Linked DNA regions of Homo sapiens. The protein of the gene in region 1 interacts with the protein of each later gene in a biochemical or structural test. Each region holds a gene or a part of one and is shown in the gene's direction. Other genes may lie near its edges. The genes, in order: DEXI and POLI.

Evidence for each region.
Region 2: the proteins of DEXI (region 1) and POLI form a complex in vitro, tested with the Homo sapiens proteins (one large-scale study listed by BioGRID).

What each region holds. Positions count from the first base shown.
Region 1 is NC_000016.10:10,935,918-10,939,738, reverse strand, and holds part of DEXI (dexamethasone-induced protein), read left to right. Parts: intron 1-1,617; exon of another isoform or gene 1,618-3,106; intron 3,107-3,344; exon of another isoform or gene 3,345-3,821.
Region 2 is NC_000018.10:54,275,815-54,279,635, forward strand, and holds part of POLI (DNA polymerase iota isoform a (long)), read left to right. Parts: intron 1-1,888; coding exon 1,889-2,041; intron 2,042-3,821. UniProt on the Homo sapiens protein: Error-prone DNA polymerase specifically involved in DNA repair. Plays an important role in translesion synthesis, where the normal high-fidelity DNA polymerases cannot proceed and DNA synthesis stalls. Favors Hoogsteen base-pairing in the active site.

The sequences.
Region 1 (3,821 bases):
GTGCCTGGCCTCTAGTAGACGGTCTCTGTAGGTGTAGACATGGAGTGAAACAGAAGTGAAACGGTAGGATAGAGATGGTGGGCTGCTTTAGCTGAGGGGTCAGAGAAAGCCTCTCTAAGGAGATGATGCTTTTGAGCTGAGCCTTAATTTGATAGAAGGATCTGGAGAAAAGCAGTCCAGGCTGAGGGAATCAGTGGTGCCAAGACCTTCAGGTGAGAGAGAGTTGGTTTTTCCGCAACCAAAAGGAGGCCCATGTGGCTGGAGAACAGCCCCAGGAAAGGTCAGTGAGGTGGGTGGGAGCCATACCATGGAGGACCTGGAAGGCCATAGCCAAGAGCAGTGGAAAGCCATTGGAAGGTTCTAGGCAGGAGATGACACAATCCCATTCCCATTTTGCAAAAATGACTCTGGCAATTGTGGACAGAATGAGCTGAGGGGTAAGAGGGGAAGCAGGGCCACCACCTCAGATGCTGTTAGTTGTCCAGGCCAGAGGTGACAGAGGCTTGGATGAGGGGAGTTTAGTGAAGATAGAGAAACATGAACAGACTGAGAACAACTCTCAAAAGTAGAACCTATGGAATCCATTCAAAATCTGTACTGAGCATTGATTGTATCGCACTCCTGTGTCTAGGCCCTTTGCATATGCACTCACTCATTCAACAGACTTTGACCCTGCCTGCTCTTCTGCCAGGCCGTGTGCTAAGGGCCTGCGATCCCAAGATAAATCCCTGTCTCCAAGCCAAGCATTTGACTTTGAAGCAGTGTAACTTGGTGAGGAACGTCTTATTTTATCTCTTTACCACATCAACAGAAACACTTCCCCTTCCAAATGAAAACATTGGCATATTCTGAACTAAAAACTGAATCCCAAATGCTTCGACATATTTTGCAGCAAACGCTGTTTAAGCAGAAACACCAGGAAATATCTCTCAGGGACACCCTTGCAAAGCTCTCGGGGTGTCAGGGCCTGACCCTGGGAAGTGGGGAGGCCTGGAGAAGTGGTGGAAGCCATGCACAGCCTTCCCTCCTCCCCACCCTCAAATCCAAGCCAAGGAGGCCTTGCCCCCAAGTGCCGAGGAAGCTCAGAACCCCAGGGTATGAGAGGGGTAGCTAGCAGCAGGGAAGCCGCCAGGAAAGACCTCAAGATGATCTGACCGAGCCTCATCTCCAGGCCCCTTTCCATAAGCAGGGGAACGCCGGTAGTCAGTCCTGCTCTTTCTCAGCCATTCTCATGTGGTCACATGTGTTCCCCACACGCCAATCCAGGAAACAGTGACTAAGGGCGTGGAGCATGTCACACAGTGGGGCCCAGGATGAATCTCAAGATGAACAGGTGCACCTACTTTTGCTCCCTCTTTTTTTTTTTTTTCTCTTATGTGTGGACCCACATAATTCAGTTCCTCAAACATTTGCTGAGCACCTACTTGAGGAGGCAGTATTAGGGTCATGGTTAAGAGCCAGGGCCCTGGGTTCACATCCCAGGGTAGCTGTGACCTTGGGCATGCTGCTTAACCTCCCTGTACTTTGGTTTCCTCTTCTAGAAGATGGAAATAATGAAAATCTCCCTTGTTGTGAGGATTAGGTGAGATATACATAAAGCACTTAGATCTCCTTGTATATAGTAAGAGATGTATTAATATTAACCACTCATATTCATAGTCGGATACAATGGAAAGCGTGTTATACCCATGCCCTTGCAAATGTACAAACCTGCACCTATACTCATGCATGAATATTTATATCCTGTGAGCAGAAGAGGACAGGCTGCCTGAGTGCCAGGGAGGTCCAGGTCTAGCCTAGCTGGGGGAGACTTCCCACTCTGCCTTCCCAGCCCCAGGACCCTTAGGAGAACTTTCTTGCTGCCCTGTGGTCCCCAGGGCACCAGAACCCTGGATAGCCGGCTCTGTGGTTTTCCTAGAGTGTTAATTGTTGCCCAGGAGCAGGGAATGGGGAATCGGGAGCTCCCTCCTTCCCAGGAGAAAGGGCTGCAGTGGCTGGCCTGGGAGCCAGGGAGAGTCTTCACGTCCCAGCAGTTCTGGTGCAGAGGCAGCTCAGTTGGATTATTCGTCCCGGTTCCTAATGAAAGTGAAAGCTGCTGGTACCTGCCAGCCCTCTCTTGGCACACAGCGAGCTGAAAATGCAGAGACTGGAGAACGTTGCCACCAGAGTCAGCTTGTCCTGGTGCAGCTCAGATTTGGAGCTGAGGGTTATCGATGCATTGGTCTATCTTATTCCAGGATTTCCTAGGCTTCAGTTATCTCCCAACTAGGAACCACAGCTGCTCCTTCCTAACCTGGTCCCTCCTTGCCAATCTGTGGCCTGTGCTATCAGCAGAACCCCTGTGCCGGACATAGAGCTGCCCAGGTCAGAAACCCAAACCTTCCACAGGGACACAGTCAGATTTGAGTTATGGGAGATCCCACAGCCAGGGGTCAGGGCGGATGCAGGAAACCAGGCCAGGAAGCTGTGGCTGTCATCTAAGCAAGAGACAGACAATGGTGACACAGGGAGGCAAGTATACCCCCAGGCCTGGCCACCTCTCCAGCTCTGCTCCTGACATGAGGCTCACCCAGAAGGTCCTTGGCCATAGGGTACATTGGTGCCAGCTGCGTCTTCAGACAGGAGAAAACCCCAGTATGTGTCTCAAGACAGTGAGATGTCAAGAGTCCTGCTCTCTTAGCCCTGAATTATACAAACTGGAGATTTCAGCCAAGAAACAGGCAGGGTCTGCCCCACTTACAGCTCATGTGTCTGTTTTGCCGAACTAAGAAAGTGAGGGCTTCTCTCAATTTGGATATTCATATTTCTGGTTTATCTGCTAGCTTTCCTCCCAGAACTTCTGAAAGCATACTCGGCTTTTGGGAAACCTAAGATCACAATAAAAGTGGCAGACCTCTTTATCCCTGTCTCACAAATAAATGGAGGCACAGAATGGGGAAGTGGAGGCCGAGGGAACAAAGCCAACTAAGACTGCCAGCCCGGTTCCCTGGCCACAGCACTGAGGGTTTGAGGGGTGCCTCCAGTGAGGGCTCCCCATCCCCGACCTTGGAACACCAGCTCATAGTTTCTGCCAGGCCTATTTCATACGCACTCTTCCAACTTTTTCCTGAATTAAAAACAAACAAACAAACAAAAACCTCTGTTATGAAGTAATTTCACACTTACAGAAAAGTTGCAAGAGCACAAACAATGCCCGCCCAAACTCACCAGTTGCACCAGTTAGCACTTTGCTCATGTACACGTGCATGCTCTTCCCTCTGTTTGTATATGCATGCCTGTGTATATGCACACATGTGTATATGTGTAATTTTCATAAGCATTTGAAAATGGGTTCATTATGCACCTTTACTCCTAAATAATTCAGTATTTATTTCCTTAGAACAAGGACAAATTTGCATAACCACAGTAGGGTTGTCAAAATCAGCAAATCTAATATTGATACACTATACAATCCTATGACCAATCTCATCTACAACTTTATTCAAATTTTATAGAGGCTGAGGTGGAAGGATCACTTGAGTTTGAAACCAGCCTGGGCAACATAGTGAGACCCCGTCTCTACAAAAAGTAGGAAAAAAAAAATAGCGAGGTGTTGTGGTACACGCCCATAGTCCCAGTTACTCGGAAGGCTCAGGCAGGAGGATTGCTTGAGTCCGGGAGTTCAAGGCTGCAGTGAGTTATTATTCCACCACTGCACTCCAGCCTGGGTGACTGAGCGAGACCCTGTCTCAAAACGAAAAAAAAAAAAAATTGTCCCAGTAGTGTCCCTTAACAATAAAAAGGGGAGAGTTGAGGTCCAAGATGCAATCCCAGATCAGCTT
Region 2 (3,821 bases), on another chromosome or scaffold:
TATTTTTTGAAAAAAGTTACTTTATCAATTTTTCTCACAGTATTTTTCTGAGTTGAAGTAGGCGCGTAGCCAGTTAGTCCTTTACTGTATTTATCTCTGATCTGTTTATAACCTTATTATTTATTTCATATTTTGATGCTACTGCATATATACCTTTCTTCAAGGTATTTTTTTTTTCTGTAATTACAGACTCCTCTTTTGGGCCCTATATAATTATATGTTTAATAAATGTATCTTGCTTATGAAGTTGATACCAAGAAAGAGGTTAACTTCAGGAATGGAGGCTGGGCATGGTGGCTTATGCCTGTAATCCCAACACTTTGGGAGGCTGTGGTGGGGTATCATTTGAGGTCAGTCTGGGCAATATAACATAGCAAGACCCTGTCTCTACAAAAGTTAAAAAAAAAAAAAGTTAGCTGGTAGCATGTGCCTGCAGTCCCAGAGGCCGAGGTAGGAGGATTGCTTGGGCCCAGGAGGTCAAGGCTGTACTGAGCTGTGGTGTGCTACTCCACTCCAGCCTGGGCAACAGTGAGACCCTGTCTCATTAAAACTACAGCAACAACAAAAACCTTCAGGGACGGGATAATTAGGGATTTGTCCTGTGACCTAAAATCAGTCAATATTTAGTGATCCACCAGCTTCGTGCATGATTCTGTATTTAACTTGCTTTTCTATTTAGTGCTTAAAGCCTTATCCTTTATTTTTCTTATGTAGTATTCTTTTGATAAACTCTTGTTTTCTACATGTTACTTTGCATATCAGGTATATACTTTTGAAAATAAATTGCCGAAATTGATGAAGGAAATGCAAAACAATCATTTTCTTTGATTAGACATATTGTCAGTCTGTCCTGAAAGGAGGTAATAGTTTTCTCTAGGTAATAGTTTTCTCAGGAGTGATTTTTGGTGTTTGCCATGTCACATTGTTACCTTTATTGGTTTCCCCTCACATTGTCAATGTTGACATCAACAAAACAAAAAAGCACCTTTGGTGTTTGTGAAAAAACATGATCTATGTGGAATGAGATAGTCCTTTTATTTCTGAGCTTCAGATTATATGACCTTAAGAATCTATGCATTTTTGTATACTAAGAGACTTGCATTTGTTTTCTCTTATCCAGCTGGTGTCAGTAGAAAGTGATTCAGAGGGAAGTGAAAAACTTTCTCAATGATTTTAAAGTTATTAGTCTCAATGTTAATATATGAAAATTGATAGTTTTTTTGAATTTATTTTGAATTTTGGTTCAGCTTAATCTAGTAAACATTTGACTTGAGGACTAGATATTGTGCTAGACGCTGGGCATTTGAATACCTGTAAGTTGTGGTTCATCTCTGCCTCTCTGTCCTAAGGAATATTCTTGGGAATGGCTAATAAAAATACCACGTTATAGTATATTTTGAAAGTTGACTGACTTTCTGTTTTATTCAGTAATAATTGGACATTTTAAATATTATTTTGTTTTGCCTCTTTTAAACTCTTGGAGAAAATATAGCTAAAATATACTATTACTTGTTTTTAACTTTCCTGAGCAGCCTATAGTTTATTCTTTGACACATTTCTTCAAGGTCACCAATTTACTATAAGCATTGATATTTAATGTACTACAGATATAAAAATTATAGGTGTAGAAGATTGAGCTAGATATATTGCCATGAATAACTGCCCTAGGAATGTCATTTTTAGACTTTTTTGAAAATATTGCCTTTATACAAGATGTGGTACAGAAAAAACGTCAATTAACTGAGGGCTTTATTAAAGATATTATGGAACTATGAATGTATATAAAACCTTTAACAATAAATTTGATAAATTTTTAAGCACTAGATAGTTAAATTTATCCTAGTTATAACTTCATTTACATTTGTGCTCCAATATTATTTCAATTTAGAATTACTGGAAGAATTTAGTCCAGTTGTTGAGAGACTTGGATTTGATGAAAATTTTGTGGATCTAACAGAAATGGTTGAGAAGAGACTACAGCAGCTGCAAAGTGATGAACTTTCTGCGGTGACTGTGTCGGGTCATGTATACAATAATCAGTGTGAGTGGGTTCTTATTCATTCTACCTACTAACCAAAAGTACATACATTTCTTAATGTTCAGTGAGTTCGCTGTGTGATTCTGAAAGATTCATGACTTTTGTTGGAGGTATAGTTATATTTAGTCAGTAATCTGTCTAGGACAGCTAAAATTAGGTGCTGCTATTCCATAATAAGTGTTAAGATTTTGATGACATGTAGCTCAATGCTCTGTGCACTTTTCATTTGCACAGAGCATTGTTCCTGTTCATCTGCACAGAGCATTCATCTGTGCAGAGTTTTCGTCTGACACAGTGCATTGGTTCCCATTTTAGAAAGCCATACCCAGCTGGGCACAGTGGAGCGCCCCTGTAGTCCCAGCTGTTTGGGAGACTGAGCTGAGAAGATTGCTTGAACCCAGGAGTTTGAGTCCAGCCTAGGCAACAGAGCAAGATCCCATCTCTTAAGGAAACAAAAAGCCATACCTCTGTAGGTCATTCTTAAGTTGTAAGAGTTGGCTTCTTAATATGCTTTTTGGAATAATTTTTTATTATTCTAAAACAATCTCTAAGCAGAGTTTTCAGGTAGGCTAGATTTGCCTTTGATGTGTCTTTTACATGTTCCCTTCGATTCCCCTTTGATGTGTGTTTTACATGTTCACTTCGATTCCCCTGAGACCCTCATGTTGCTCTCTGAATTCCCAAGTTAGCACTTTTGGAATGTTGTCCAGGGCTATCTGCCATGTGCTAGAATCTTCTCCAAGCTCCTATTTAATCTGTTCAAATAATCTTTGTCAAAGTTAGCAAGAAAGCAGAATGGTTTGTCTCCTTCATATATTGAGATATGAATGACTGATGGTGTTTCCAGTGATATTTACATTTGAAAATAAGCTGCAGTAAGCACCAGTGAATATCTGATTAGGCTTTCAGACATCTTATGACTCTGCTGGTGACTCCCCTATCATACCACATACAAGACAAGGTACTCTGCTGTTGTGTAAGACTTGTCTGACCCTTTTGCTCTTAAGCCTCCCCATGCATTTCCTCTTATCCTCTTTTTTGAGAACTAGACATCGGTCTACAGAATAGTTCTCCACAGAAGAAAAGCAGTAGAACCACAGTTTCTAGAATACATGGAGCTTTTCCTGTATCTTTTGTACTTGTGCTCATTTGTAACTTAAAAGGGCTAACTAGCAAGAATATTTCAAATATATTTCTGTATAATTTTTAAGGCAAACTTGGATTTTATTGGTTAGAGTACATTATAGAGAGCTAGGTTTTATATCCCAAAAAGGGAAATGTGGAATTATTGATTAATTCTTCCTCTTTCATACAGATTTTATTAAAATTTTTTGTAAACCTACAGAAAAGTTGACAGAATAGTACAAAAAATACCCATTATGTCTTTTCTTTTTTTTTTTTTTTTTTTGAGACAGAGTCTCACTCTGTCGCCCAGGCCGGAGTGCAGTGATGTGATCTCGGCTCACTGCAACCTCCACCTCCTGGGTTCAAGCAATTCTCCTGCTTCAGCCTCCCGACTAGCTGGGACTACAGGCATGTGCCACTACACCCGGCTAATTTTTTTATTTTTAGTAGAGACGGGGTTTCACCATGTTGGCCAGGCTGGTCTTGAACTCCTAATCTCAGATGATCCGCTTGCCTTGGCCTCCCAAAGTGCTGGGATTATAGGCATGAGCCACTACTCCTGGCCCATTATGTCCTTTCTTGTAGATAAACCAGTTGTTATCGTTTTGCCACATTTGCTTTCTCTTGTTCTCTCTATGGATTGCTTGGTTGGTTGATG